Linked DNA regions of Homo sapiens. Each later gene encodes a partner of the first gene's protein in a complex. Each region holds a gene or a part of one and is shown in the gene's direction. Other genes may lie near its edges.

What was found. The genes of interacting proteins can lie anywhere in the genome.
Region 2: the proteins of SETDB1 (region 1) and UBE2E1 are in contact, whole or in part, in a crystal structure (PDB 8IYA), measured with the Homo sapiens proteins. Residues at the interface, in NP_001138887.1 of Homo sapiens: Glu868, Gly869, Tyr870, Glu871, Ser872; in NP_003332.1 of Homo sapiens: Asn125, Ser126, Gln127, Val129, Cys131, Leu132, Lys136, Asp163, Pro164, Leu165, Val166, Gly167, Ser168.

What each region holds. Positions count from the first base shown.
Region 1 is NC_000001.11:150,950,352-150,957,377, forward strand, and holds part of SETDB1 (histone-lysine N-methyltransferase SETDB1), read left to right. Parts: intron 1-106; coding exon 107-739; coding exon of another isoform or gene 740-743; intron 744-1,013; coding exon 1,014-1,130; intron 1,131-7,026. UniProt on the Homo sapiens protein: Histone methyltransferase that specifically trimethylates 'Lys-9' of histone H3. H3 'Lys-9' trimethylation represents a specific tag for epigenetic transcriptional repression by recruiting HP1 (CBX1, CBX3 and/or CBX5) proteins to methylated histones.
Region 2 is NC_000003.12:23,808,952-23,815,977, forward strand, and holds part of UBE2E1 (ubiquitin-conjugating enzyme E2 E1), read left to right. Parts: intron 1-1,502; exon of another isoform or gene 1,503-1,524; coding exon of another isoform or gene 1,525-1,577; intron 1,578-2,508; coding exon 2,509-2,559; intron 2,560-7,026. UniProt on the Homo sapiens protein: Accepts ubiquitin from the E1 complex and catalyzes its covalent attachment to other proteins. Catalyzes the covalent attachment of ISG15 to other proteins. Mediates the selective degradation of short-lived and abnormal proteins.

The sequences.
Region 1 (7,026 bases):
CACAGCTGTTTGAAAGATGAGAGAAATGGCTTAGCTACCTGGAGGGTTAATTATAAAACAGAGGTCCTGTTGCCTTCCGATCTGATCACTTGCATCTCATTTGCAGATCACCTTTAGGCTCCACAGCCTCTGCCCCAGCACCCTCAGCACTCCCGGCCCCTCCAGCACCCCCAGTCTTCCATGGCATGCTGGAGCGGGCCCCAGCAGAGCCCTCCTACCGTGCTCCCATGGAGAAGCTTTTCTACTTACCTCATGTCTGCAGCTATACCTGTCTGTCTCGAGTCAGACCTATGAGGAATGAGCAGTACCGGGGCAAGAACCCTCTGCTGGTCCCGTTACTATATGACTTCCGGCGGATGACAGCCCGGCGTCGAGTTAACCGCAAGATGGGCTTTCATGTTATCTATAAGACACCTTGTGGTCTCTGCCTTCGGACAATGCAGGAGATAGAACGCTACCTTTTCGAGACTGGCTGTGACTTCCTCTTCCTGGAGATGTTCTGTTTGGATCCATATGTTCTTGTGGACCGAAAGTTTCAGCCCTATAAGCCTTTTTACTATATTTTGGACATCACTTATGGGAAGGAAGATGTTCCCCTATCCTGTGTCAATGAGATTGACACAACCCCTCCACCCCAGGTGGCCTACAGCAAGGAACGTATCCCGGGCAAGGGTGTTTTCATTAACACAGGCCCTGAATTTCTGGTTGGCTGTGACTGCAAGGATGGGTGTCGGGACAAGTGAGTTGGTGGGGGGAATTGCTGCCCCTGCTTCCAACTTTGTTATGGTGTCTGTTTCACCTCTTCCTTTGCCTTGTATCTGTACTGCTTTCCCCATCTTCCTTTACCTCCTCCCTCACCTGGAACTCCTGCTATAAGGCCTCCATGAAAGCTATGAGGTAGGGAGGCTGGAGTCTGACATGGCCACACTGAGCAACCTTGGGTACATGTGTATTGTGTTATTTTTGTTCTCTGATCCCCCCGCTCCTTTCCTTTATTTCCCTCTGTCATATAGGTCCAAGTGTGCCTGCCATCAACTAACTATCCAGGCTACAGCCTGTACCCCAGGAGGCCAAATCAACCCTAACTCTGGCTACCAGTACAAGAGACTAGAAGAGTGTCTACCCACAGGGTAAGTGGTCAAGGAATGGCACAGTACCTCAGAGAGACTGAGGAGCATGTTCTTGTTTTTCTGTGCTTATAGAAATCATCAGAAATCTAAAAATTGGAACCAAAAATAGAATACCAGATGAGGCATTTTATTAATTAGATCTTATTTCATGACTTCCAAAACACATTTTTTTTCTTGGACCTTCCTTGAAATGAAGACATAGAATGATTGAATAGTATCTAGCAATTTTCTGTTGCAAAAAAAGATTATCTTAATTTCATAGCTAAATGAATGTCTTAACAGATTGTGATTTACACTTGTAAGTGAAATGTGTTCAGAGAGGAGAAGTAGGCAGGGACCTGATTACATAGGGCTTTGTAAATCAGAATGAAAAAAGTTAGAATCAGGCTGGCACAGTGGCTCACACCTGTAATCCCAGCACTTTCGGAGGCCAAGGTGGGTGGATCACCTGAGGTCAGGAGTTTGAGACCAGCCTGGCCAACCTGGTGAAACCCTGTCTCTACTAAAAATACAAAAATTAGCCGGGGGTGGTGGCGGGTGCCTGCAGTCCCAACTACTTGGGAGGCTGAGGCAGGAGAATCGCTTGAATCCAGGAGGCAGAGGTTGCAGTGAGCCAAGATCATGCCACTGCACTTCAGCCTGGGTGACAAGAGCGAGACTCTGCCTTAAAAAAAAAAAAAGAAAAGTTAGAATCAAATTCATGGTGCTCTTACAGGATTTTAAGCTGCCAAGTGATGTGACCTGCCTTTTTCAGATTACTCTGGCTTCTTTGTAGATCATAGGTCTTAGGATGGCAAAAGTAGATTTTGGAAGACCAATTAGGAGATCGTTATAGGAGTACAGCAGAGAGAGACATTGTTGCAGCTATGACTTGCAATAGAATGGAGGTGATAGTAGAGGTAAGAAGGATAGATTTGGGCTGTATTAATAGGTAGAGCTACAGAATTGGATAGATTATGGAGTGGGGGGAAAGAGTAGAATCAAGGACAATTCCTAAATTTTTGGCTTGAGCATCTTAGTGGTTGTTGGTGCTTTTTACTGAGATGGAAGACCGAAGGAGTAGTAGGTTTGAGTGAAATTCAGTTTTTGTTTTGGCCATGTTAAGTTTGAAATGCCGCCGGGCGCAGTGGCTCACGCCTGTAATCCCAGCACTTTGGGAGGCTGAGGCGGGCGGATCACCTGAGGTCGGGAGTTCAAGACCAGCCTTGACCAACATGGAGAAATCCCGTCTCTACTAAAAATACAAAAAAAAAAAATTAGCCGGGCATGGTGGCGCATGCCTGTAATCTCAGCTACTCGGGAGGCTGAGGCAGGAGAATTGCTTGAATCTGGGAGGCGGAGGTTGTGGTGAGCTAAGATCGCACCATTGCACTCCAGCCTGGGCAACAAGAGCGAAACTCAGTCTCAGAAAACAAAACAAAACAAAAAGTTTGAAATGCCTGTCAGGCAATCCAAGTAGAAATGTCAAGAAGACACTGGGATTTCTGGAGAGAGTGGGATATAAAAATTTAGGAATCATCAGCACAGGAGTATTTAAAGCCTGAATAAGTTCACCTAGAGACAATGTTGATAATAGAGAAGGCGGCTCAGGAGTAAGCCCTGGGTGCCCCAACATTTAAAGGTTGAGCAGAGGAGGTGGAACCAGCATGAGGTTGAGGACAGCTACTGAGGAGGGTGAGGCCGAAAGATTACTTGAGGCCTGGAGTTTGAGACCAGACTGGGCAACATAGTAAGACCCTGTGTCTAAAAAAAAATTGTTGGGGCTGGGCGTGGTGGCTCACGCCTGTAATCCCAGCACTTTTCGAGGCTGAGGCAGGCAGATCACTTGAGGTCAGGAGTTCAAGACCAGCCTGGCCAATATGGTGAAACCCCATCTCTACTAAAAATACAAAAAACTTGCCAGGGATGGTGGCGAGCACCTGTAATCCCAGCTACTTGGGAGGCTGAGACAGGAGAATCACTTGGACCCAGGAGGTGGAGGTTGCAGTGAGCCAAGACCGCACCATTGCACTCCAGCCTGGGCAAGAAAAGCAAAATTCTATCTCAAAAAAAAAAAAAAATTGTTGGCCATGCGCGGTGGCTCATGCCTGTAATCCCAACACTTTGGGAGGCCAAGGTGGGTGGATCACCTGAGGTCAGGAGTTCAAGAACAGCCTGGCCAACATGGTGAAACCCCATCTGTAATAAAAATACAAAAATTAGCCAGGCGTGATTGTGCACGCCTGTAATCTCAGCTATTTGGGAGGCTGAGGCAAGAGAATCGCTTGAAGCTGGGAGGCAGAGATTACAGTAAGCTGAGATTGCACCACTGCACTCCAGTCTGGACAACACAACAAGACTCCGTCTCAAAAAAAATGATTTAAAAATTAAAAAAAAAATTTTTTTTTTTTTTAGATGGAGTCTTGCTCTGTCGCCCAGGCTGGAGTGCAGTGGCGTGATCTCAGCTCACTGCAAGCTCCGCCTTCCGGGTTCACGCCATTCTCCTGCCTCAGCCTCCCGAGAAGCTGGGACTACAGTCGCCCACCACCACGCCTGACTACTTTTTTGTATTTTTAGTAGAGACAGGGTTTCACCATGTTAGCCAGGATGGTCTCTATCTCCTGACCTCATGATCCGTCTGCCTCAGCCTCCCAAAGTGCTGGGATTACAGGCGTGAGCCACCGCGCCCAGCCTAAATTATTTTTTAAAAAATTAGCCGGGCATGGTAGATGCATGCCTGTAGTCCCAGCTACTTGAGAGGCAGAGGCAGAAAGATCACTTGAGCCCAGTAGTTCAAGGCTGCAGTGAGCTATGATCACACCACTACACTCTAGCCTGGGGTGACAGAGCATGACTCTTATCTCTAAAACAAGAGGAGGACAACAAAAGAGTGGGGTATAGCATGGTAAACTGGTATATATAAACACGTGAACTAATAAACCTAGTGATCAGAATACATAATTAACAGAACAGAGGAGAAAAGCATCAGTGAAATAATTCAGAAAGTGTCCCATAATTGAAGGATCTTTGTTTCTGAATTGAAAGGGCCAGTTAGGTCCCAACATAATGAAGGATAAAGGTAGGTTCCCATTAAGAGACATTATCATAAAATGTCAGAACACTGAGGGAAAAAAAAATCCTAAAAGCTTCTAGAGAAGAGAAATAGAACACGTTAAAAAATAGACTTGAAATGACTTCAGCCTTCCCTGAAAGTAGCACTAGAAGCTAGATAGCAATTGGAGAATCTGTTCAGAATTCTAAGGGAAAATTATTTCCAACCTGGAATTTTAAACTCGGGCAAACTATCAATTTGGTGTTACAGTAGGCTAAATACATTTTTTTAGACATGCAGTACCTCAGAGTTTTTCATCATTCCCCTTCTCAGAAAGTTTCTGGAAATATTTGCAAAAATGAGAGGGAAAGGCAGGAAAGGGGAAGACAGGTGACAGTGCAGTGAAAGAGGCTTCCAGGCTGACAGCTGTGTACTAGGCATAGAGAAGAGCCACTGCAGGAGCAGGTCAGATGCTGTAGGAGCGACTTCTTCAGGAAAATTGGTTTAACAGAAAACCTGAGGTGCCTGAATACATTCAGAGGAGATCGAGACTACTGGGGAGATCATAGGATGAATTTGTACTGATAACATTGAAAAACTAAACAAAGGAATAGACAGTTGTTTAGTTGCATTGCTGTATCATGTATGTTTTAATTATTAACAAAATTTTGAATCTAACAATAGCGTTTAGATTTGATAATGCTGGGTGGTACATGAGTGTTCATATCTTTTTTACACGTTTGAAATGTTTCATAAAAATATTTTCAAATAATCACAAATAATATATCACTCCCCTGCTTAACTCTATAATATAGTCCCTCTGCTGTTTGGATTTTATTCTGACTCTTAACCTTAGGTTATATATTTGGCCCTTTCCTGTCTCCCTCCAAAGTCATTCCAACCACACTGATATTTTTCAGTTCCTGGATCCAGTTCAACCAGTGTTTTCCAGCCTGCCTCTGGAGACTTGCACATGCTGTGCCTTCTTCTTGGCATCCTTCCACTTTTCTTTGTGTGGCTATCTTCTTTAACCTTGAGCTTTCAGCTGTAAAGTCACCTCCTCAGAGAGACCTTCCCTGACCACTTTAAAACTAGGTCATTTTACTCCCTTAATTCTCTCATTGAGCACCATGTTTGTGTTCTTTATAGCATTTATGACAACTTTTGTTGACTTGTTTTTCTTTTTTTCTATTATATAAGCTCCTTCATGAGGGCAAGGATCTTATCTGTCTCTTTGTCTTGCTAACCATTGTATCACCAGTTTACCCAATGCCTGGCACATAGTAATCACTTAGGCCAGGTGCAGTGGCTGATGCCTGTAATCCCAGCACTTTGGGAGGCCAAGGCGGGCAGATCACTTGAGGTCAGGAGTTCGAGACCAGCCTAGCCAACATGGTGAAACCCTGTCTCTACTAATAAAGTATAAAAAATTAGCCAGGCGTGGTGGCACATGCCTGTAGTGCTAGCTACTCAGGAGGCTGAGATGGGAGAATTGGTTGAACCCAGGAGGCAGAGGTTGCAGTGAGCCGAGATTGCACCATTGCACTCCAGCCTGGGCGACAGAAGGAGACTTCGTCTCAAAAAAAAAAAAAAAGCCAAGCGCAGTGGCTCACGCCTGTAATCCCAGCACTTTGGGAGGCCGAGACAGGTGGATTACGAGGTCAGGAATTCAAGATCAGCCTGGCCAAGATGTTGAAACCCCGTCTCTACTAAAAATACAAAAATTAGCCATGTGCGGTGGCAGGCGCCTGTAATCCCAGCTACTCCAGAGGCTGAGGCAGGAGAATCACTTGAACCCGCGAGGTGGAGGTTGCAGTGAGCCAAGATCCCACCACTGCACTCCGGCCTAGGCAATAGAGTGAGACTCCGCCTCAAAAAAAAAAAAAAAAGTAACCACTTAAATTTTGTGGAATGAATGAATGATAGTATAGCTACTGTAAAGGTTTCATGTGGTAATAATGACACCTGAGTTCAAATTCCAGCCCTGCCCCTACTGAGCTGATCTTTTTTGATCAGCTGTAAACAGAGGATATTAACATAAACACCCCCATGTCCCCAGTGGGGTTTTAAGGGACCTAACAAAGTTGTTTCTTGATCTGGTGCAGGTTACATGGTATGCTGAGTTTGTAAAATTCATTGATCTGTATAGACTTACGTGTACTTTCCTCTGTGTATATTACGTTTCAATAATCTTTTATTTCCCCCTACCCACTAGACCACCAGGGAAATAATCTCTTTTTTTTTTTTGCTATGGAGTCTTGCTCCCAAAGTGCTGGGATTACCGACATGGGAAATAATCTTTTTTAAAGTTAGAAAAAAAAGCTAGACATGGTGGCTCACACCTGTAATCCCAGCACTTTGGGAGGCCGTGGTGGGGGGATGGCTTGAGTTCAGTAGTTCCAGACTTGCCTGGGCAATGTGATGAGACCTTGTCTCTACAAAAAAAGTTTTAAAAATTAGCTGGGCATGTGGCATGCAGCTGTGGTCCCAGCTACTTAGGAGACTGAGGCAGGAGGATCACTTGAGCCCAGGAGGTCAAGGCTGCAGTGAGCTGTGTTTGTGCCGCTGCACTATGGTCTGGGTGACAGAGCAAGACCATGACTCAAAAAAAAAAAAAATGGGAGGTCGAAGCAGGTGGATCACCTGAGGTCAGGAGTTCAAGACCAGCCTGGCCAACATGGTAAAACCCTGTCTCCAATACAAAAATTAGCAGGGTATGATGGCATGCACCTATAATCCCAGCTACTTGGGAGGCTGAGGCAGGAGAATCGCTTGAACCCAGGAAGCGGAGGTTGGGCGACAAAGCGAGACTGTGTCTCAAAAAGAAAAAACACCACCTGTATTAGGGCAGCTTTAAGGATAGAA
Region 2 (7,026 bases), on another chromosome or scaffold:
GGGGTAAAGACACAGGTATCAAATAGAAAATACTCTGCTTTTGTTGTGAGTGAATTACAGAGAGGGGGATTTTTTTCACTAGACATACTTTGTTTATTTTAAACAAGTTAAGAATTTATTTGGAAGTTCTGGAAAAGAGATGATAGGTGTAGAAAAATGAAAGGTGGGAAGCTACAAATAGTAATTTTACCTATAAATTAACATCAGGGCTTTTGTTTTGTTTTTGCAATGAATTTAGCTCCTTGATAATCTTGCTGAAAGAGTAGCTATTAGTGTTAAAGCAGACCTAAAGTTAATAGAAAAAGGTAAAAAAATGGAGAGGGACAGTGTATCCAGGAAAGAGAATGGGGAAAATTGATGTTAGTGGGACCCTATAGAGGCTGTTCTGTGAAGTATATTGATTTGGAAGGTAGGTGTTGCCCATAGAATTGGAAGGGGCACATTCACCAGGAGTAGGAGTGAAAAAGAAGCCTGAATTGGCAGACTAACAGGCTGCTAACTGCATGTTGGAAAGTGGTTTCTAAACCGTGGGTAGAGGAAAGCCCCCATTGCAAGTGGTCTGAACAAGAATGACTCTCTGGAAATAGGTATGAGTTACTCCTGCAAATCTCTTGCCAGTTTTTTGGAAATGCAAATGCTGTCTGTCAAGATGAAGTTGATAAAGCTTTTTGGTATTAACGCTTCTTAGGTATTAAAGAAACAACTACCTTTTTTTGTGACTATTTTATAGTGGGAGTTGGGTTGGCAAGGAGGACTGAAGTCAATATGTATTTTTATATGCGTTGTGCTCCGGGGAGGAAATTTTTGCCTACGTGTGTAGGTCTTAAAATACAGTTATTTGAAAAGATTCAGGTAAAGAATCAGGAAACCAATTTTCCAAACTTTGAGTCTAATGTACAGTCATGAGTCAAACAGCGGGAGTATGAATGTCTCAGAAATGAAACGCTTTTTGATAGTAGAATTTAGCAGGACACAAATACGTGTCAATTGAGATTGTGAACAAACCCCTTTCTAAAGTTGACAGATACGTAGGGACAGGAAATGTCCTCCAGTAGGAAGGTTTATAGAACCTCCCCCAGTCGTCGTCCTTAAAACCTGTTCCTCATTACATATAGCTCGTCCGTCCTCCTACCCGCAGAAAACCTTTGGAAAGGAAAACGTATCCTTTGTGAATTAGATTGCTCTGTGTGTGTGTTTAAAATTTTTTTAACTACAGTGCTGCCTCGGTGAGATTTTTAAGTTGTAACATAGCCCCATTGGGCTTTATATGATAGGAGGAGGAAAGGTTATAAAATTAGGCACCGTTTAGAAGGTGGAAGAAGCTTAGAGGCCCTAAACTGTCGTATTAATTGATGCTCTAAGTGCCTAGGTAAGCAAAAGACAAAGGCCAGGGCTTGGTGTGAACTGCCTGGTGGCTTCGGCCTATGAGTGGGGGATGGGGCCCTTTGTGAAGTCGAGGGTTGGTGCGGAGGGAGAAAACTGCAGGTCTCCAGTCTATCCCCAGTGTGAGCTAGAGAGCGGACCATGAAGGAAGTGGGCAGACCCCGGGAAGTTAGAGGACGCCCGGGGAAAAGCAGGTCCGGGGAGGTGGGCCGAGAGTCCCGGCCAGCGTGCGGGGCGGAGGCAGGGTCCGGTGCACCTGTGCGGCCGCGGGCCGGCCACTTGGGGTCTGTGGTGCCCGAGTGGCGGGCGGGGGTGTTCGCGCCCTGCTTTCGCGCGCGGTCTCGGGCCAAGGTTCTGGGCGCCGGGAGAGGAGAGCTGGGGCGGCGCGGAGCAGCCCCCGTGCGGGCACCCTGTTCCCCTCCCCCGCCCGCAACTTCACCGGCGCGGCGCGAGCCGTCGGGGGCGCGCGCGGGGTGGGGGCGGCGTGGCCGGGCGGTGGCAGCCCACCGCTGGGGAGCGACCTGCGGTCTGGGCCTCCCGGGCACCCCGCCACGGCTGGCAGGTCACTCGGGCCCGAGGGGCCTCGTGGGGAGCGGCCATGTTGGCTTCGTCACTGAGGACTCCGGGCGGGTCGGGTGTTGAGCGAGGCCTCGGACCTTCGGCCTGTCGGGGGCGCCCTGCCGGGGTGGGCATGGGGGCATCTGAGGGGTGAAAGGGGCAAGGGAGGCTGGAGGCTGGCGTCCTTCCCACGCACCGATGGCTGTGATCTCTCCGTGCTGGGGAGAGGTGCAGGGGAGGGACTGAGGAAACCGGTCGGCAAGTGAGAAACTTTAAAATTAGGTCCTACATGGAAAACACCGAGGAATAGAACTGCCCTGGTGTGCGAGGCAAGGTTGGAAGCCAAACTTTGCAGATGAGAACAGGAGATTCCAGGCTGCCTCACTTCCTCCGTGAAAAGTTTTTTTCCTAAACTAGGGACCTGAAGTTCTTGATGTGTAGTTCCTCTTTGCCCAGTAGAATCCAGTGATCGCGCTTAGGTTTATCTGCAGACCTGCACGCTACAGGTGGGAGGCTTCCGCGCCTTAATGCTTCTTGTGTTTGTCTTTCCCATTTCTCCCACTCCAGAATTCAGAAGGAGCTGGCGGACATCACTTTAGACCCTCCACCTAATTGCAGGTGAGTTGCTTTTCGGATTTTTTCCATTTTTAAAATTCTTCTAACCTTTGTCTTGGGTTTTTCTTTTTATTATATACTTTTTCTTTGATTCTTTGGCTAATGCTTGTTATGGCACTAACATCACGTAACAGCTGAAATTTATTAACCTGAGTATAATGTTTTGATGAGCCTCTGACAAGCTCAGTACTGTTGAGAAGAAGTAATGGATTTATTTGGAGTGGATTTTTACATATATGAAACAAAACTAAAGTAAATTTAAAGGTGTCTCCTTGCCTAATCATGGGTCTTTGATATGCCATTAAAGATGATGTAAAACCTTTCAGATGCGAAGGACATTTTGGTTTGGAAAACTGCTTTGCTACAGTAATCTCTTATTCAATCTCTGCTAAGCTAAGAGAACATTAGAGTTAAACACTGGATCTTCAAACTTACTCCATAGCATATAGATTTTTTATTAGACTTTTGGCAGAGCAATTCAGGAAACAATTTCTGGCTTTGATAAAGGTTTTCTTTTAAATTGTAGAGTTAAACTTTCATGGGGTGTTTTTTTCACTTGCTTTATTCAGACTGTATACATATGTGTGTTTCAGTTTCAAAACAAATTGAAACCAGCTTTCTAAGGGTTTGTTGATCACAGCTTTATTTAGAGAAGCCATTTTGCTACTGTTGAGTCAAGGTGGAAGACTTGATGACTTTACTAGATCAACAATGAAGTGAGGGTAACTTACAACTATGTATTAGAATAGAACCATTTATTTAAGGGAGGTCCTGTAACTCCCATACTTTAAAAATTAAGTATAACATTTAACCTAGTTCTCAAGATCGGCGTTGGAAAGGGATGTGAGATTTCAGAAATACTCTAAACTTATTGGTAGGAGTAGAAGTTACTGACAAAGTATTCAGCGGCTATACACAATTTTTAAGATGAGTGTGTGGGAATAGGTTGAAAAGCTAAATGAAGTATTTTGTTTAGTAACAGTGAACTTTGGAAACTAATTAGTGGATTAAATACAAAACTATTGCCGTTTTGGTTACATTCATTCTTAATGTTGATTAGGTGTGGGATGCTCTTCCGTGAAACTTTGTCCTGTTTTGTAAGGAAAGTCATTTTGAGTTTGAAATGCTCTTAAACTATAGTTTATAATTGGAACACTTAATCATTCTGGGGAATTCTTTCCTGGCTAATAATCTCTCAAGATGGTTGAGAAGTGGAAAAACCATAAGACTTAGGCCTAACTCATTATTTTGATGGTGGTGGTTCACGTGGAAGCCTGTAGCTTCCCTTGGTTGTTTGTGTGGAATCCATGTACATTCCCCAAGGTGGTTCTGTGCTGTCTAGTTATTGCTCCTGCTTGGTATTGTGTGTCTCCTATGTGTGTGTTATTAATAACATTGATTAAAACATATAATGGCTTTCTTGTGAATAAGCACAGTCAAATCTAAAATTGTAAACCATTTGAAGATTTTCATGGGATTAAGCATTTAAAAAAAAAAAACAGTGTAAGTACACTTCAGTTTCACATCGTTTTAACTGAGTTTATGTGTGAAAGATTTATGCTCCTGAGGCATGTGGAACTTTTTTATCTTTGGGAAACCCTCCCAATTACCCCTTCAAGGTGAAACGTTTGGGAATTACCTGTGGTCAGGGGATGCACCAAACTGGGTGGCTGTTGGGTGATTGGTGTTACGGAGTCAAAGCTCAAAATACTAAATTTTAAGAAAAATCTCTGATTTGAGAGAAAATACGAGGCATCTTCATTTTGCAAGAGAATGTATATTACATTGTCTTTTAACAATAAAGATGACTTTATTTTCTGAAGATATTTTCCAGTGGGGCCGTTTGAGTAATGTGAATTAAAATTTTTACTTTTGGTTGGCTAATGGTGCTGTCTTAATGTTATATAGTAGTCCCAATATTCAGCTCTCTTAAAAGAGTTCGGTTTTACGTTTTGTGCTGTTACCTTTTGGAATTTAATTATTTAGTATTTTAATGTACTTTATTGGAGATAAAGATGGATTATTTATTTATTTATTTATTTATTTTCTTTTTGAGACGGAGTCTTGCTCTGTAGCCCAGGCTGGAGTGCAGTGGCATGATTTCGGCTCATTGCAACCTCCACCTCCCGGGTCCTGGTTCAAGCAATTCTCCTGCCTCCTGAGTAGCTGGGATTATAGGCACGTGCCACCATGCCCAGCTAATTTTTGTATTTTGGGTAGAGATGGGGTTTCACCATGTTGGCCAGGCAGGTCTTGAACTCCTGACCTTGTGATCTGCCCGCCTTGGCCTCCCAAAGTGCTGGGGTTACGGGCGTGAGCCACTGCACCTGGCCTTGGGGATACTTTTTGAAGTCAGCGTCCAATGAAAATCTATGAATTAAGTGATATATTAAGTGCGTACATGTTTAAAATTACCCTCAGCATGAAAGCATGAGATTTGAATGAGTTAAATAATTGGTTTTCAATTAGTCTGTCTTATATTTTTACCCTTTGCCATACTTCCTTTCTTCAGTCAGCATTCAGTGTGTAGTTTTAAACACGTTATTAAAATATGGCACTTGGCACATAGTAACTTCTCAGTAAATACAAAAATTAGCCGGGCATGGTGATGCACTCCAGCCTGGGCGACAGAGTGAGACCCTGTCTCAAAAAAAAAAGTTGATTATTGCAAATCAGTAGAATTGCTCCTCTTGAAGGAAGGTGCACTGTTTGTGTTCACTAATTTTGGCACTTGGCAAAAATATTTGAAGTTACTGAGCATCAAAACTTATGTGAAATGCAATTGCTCAATATGTTATAATGTATGAAAACATAAAATTAAATTCTTAATGTTGTATATTATGTTGGGTGGATATTTTTTAGAACACAGTACAGATTGTGTTCAATGACCTGGTCCAAAGTCATTTTAAGTAAGTATTTTCAAACTGCTTTATGTTGCCATAGAAATCAAATTCTTAATTTTAGTATCTGTGATTTGTGTGTGTGTGTATATATATGCATACACACACACACAAAATAGTTTCCCAACTCACTCTTCATTTTGGTTAGGCTTTTATTCCCATATCATTTAGCTCTATTCTTTTAGGGAAAAAAATATGTTAACTTTGTAATGATTCCCTAAAGCGTGCCAGATCTTAGATTGTAAAATTATGCCTTTTAGATAGCTGATGAACTCTGGGCCACCAGAGTCAGTTTTGCAGCTGTTATTTATAGCCCAGGGCTCAAACTTTGCTAAATTGACTAGTTATAACTAGCCTGTAGACACGAATATCTGTAGACAGTATGTCTATACAGACTAAATGGCATATTTTGCCTAAGTCCTTTAAACTTCAGATTTTATTTAATGGATATATTTGTTTCATGAGTAAATGTCTCAGTGACTTAACCTAGAAATTCAGATGGGGTGCTATTTTAGGATAAAATGTCTGAAAAGTCATTAAACACTTCAAGCATGGGTGAGAATAATAAAAATACATTTCTTTCTTTCTCACTTTTTTTTTGAGACAGGGTCTCATTTTGTCACCCAGGCTGGAGTGCAGTGGTGCTCACTGCAGCCTTGACCTCCTGGGCTTAAGCTGTCCTCCTGCTTCAGGCCCCCAAGTAGCAGGAACTACAGGCGTTCGACACTACACTCGGTTAATTTTTTGTATTTTTTTGTAGAGACCAGGTTTTACCTATTGGCCAGGCTGATCTTAAACTCCTGGCCTCAAGCCGTCCACCCACTTTGCCCTTCCAGAGTGCTGGGATTACAGGCGTGAGCCATGGTGCCTGGCCCTGATACTAGTTTTTCTGTATGTGACAGAATTTCCATTTAGCCTTCTTTTGATAGCTTTTTTTTCCCTAACACTGCCTATATTTTAAATAGTTTTAAGCCATTATATTATACAAGAATGCATGTTTTTGAAAAATTCAAATACAGAAGTTTGTGGAGTAAAAGGCAAAAGATAGTCCTGATGACCTCTTCTGATCCTGCTCCTTGCACACAGATGCTCCAAGTTAGCACTTTGTATACTTCCACGTAGTTTCTGTGAATTTACATTGTGTTTTTCTGGCATTCCAATACCTCCTCGAATTGGTGGTAATGGTAATGAGATGTCAGTTCAGAAGTCCCAGGCTGCTCATCATGGTTCACAATGGAAAGAGATCCTTTTCTTGCAACAGTGGAGTGTTACATACCTCGTCCAGGTTCAGCATGTTTTAAATGGTTGTTTGGGTATAAGAAATAGGTTCAGCAGAAGTCATCCTTTATAAAACCCTGTATCTTATGTGCTAAAAAGTATTCTTCCTTTTAGCATCTTTCATTTATCTGATGTTACTAAATGCGTTAAGGATAGAAGTGTGACTTAAACATCTGAATGATGTTTAGTTTCACCATTGCAGTGTGTATACCTTTATGCATGTAAAGGCAGTGTTGAAAAATTGTGACAACCAGGAGACTGGGGTTTCAGCACGATCAAAACAGCACCCATA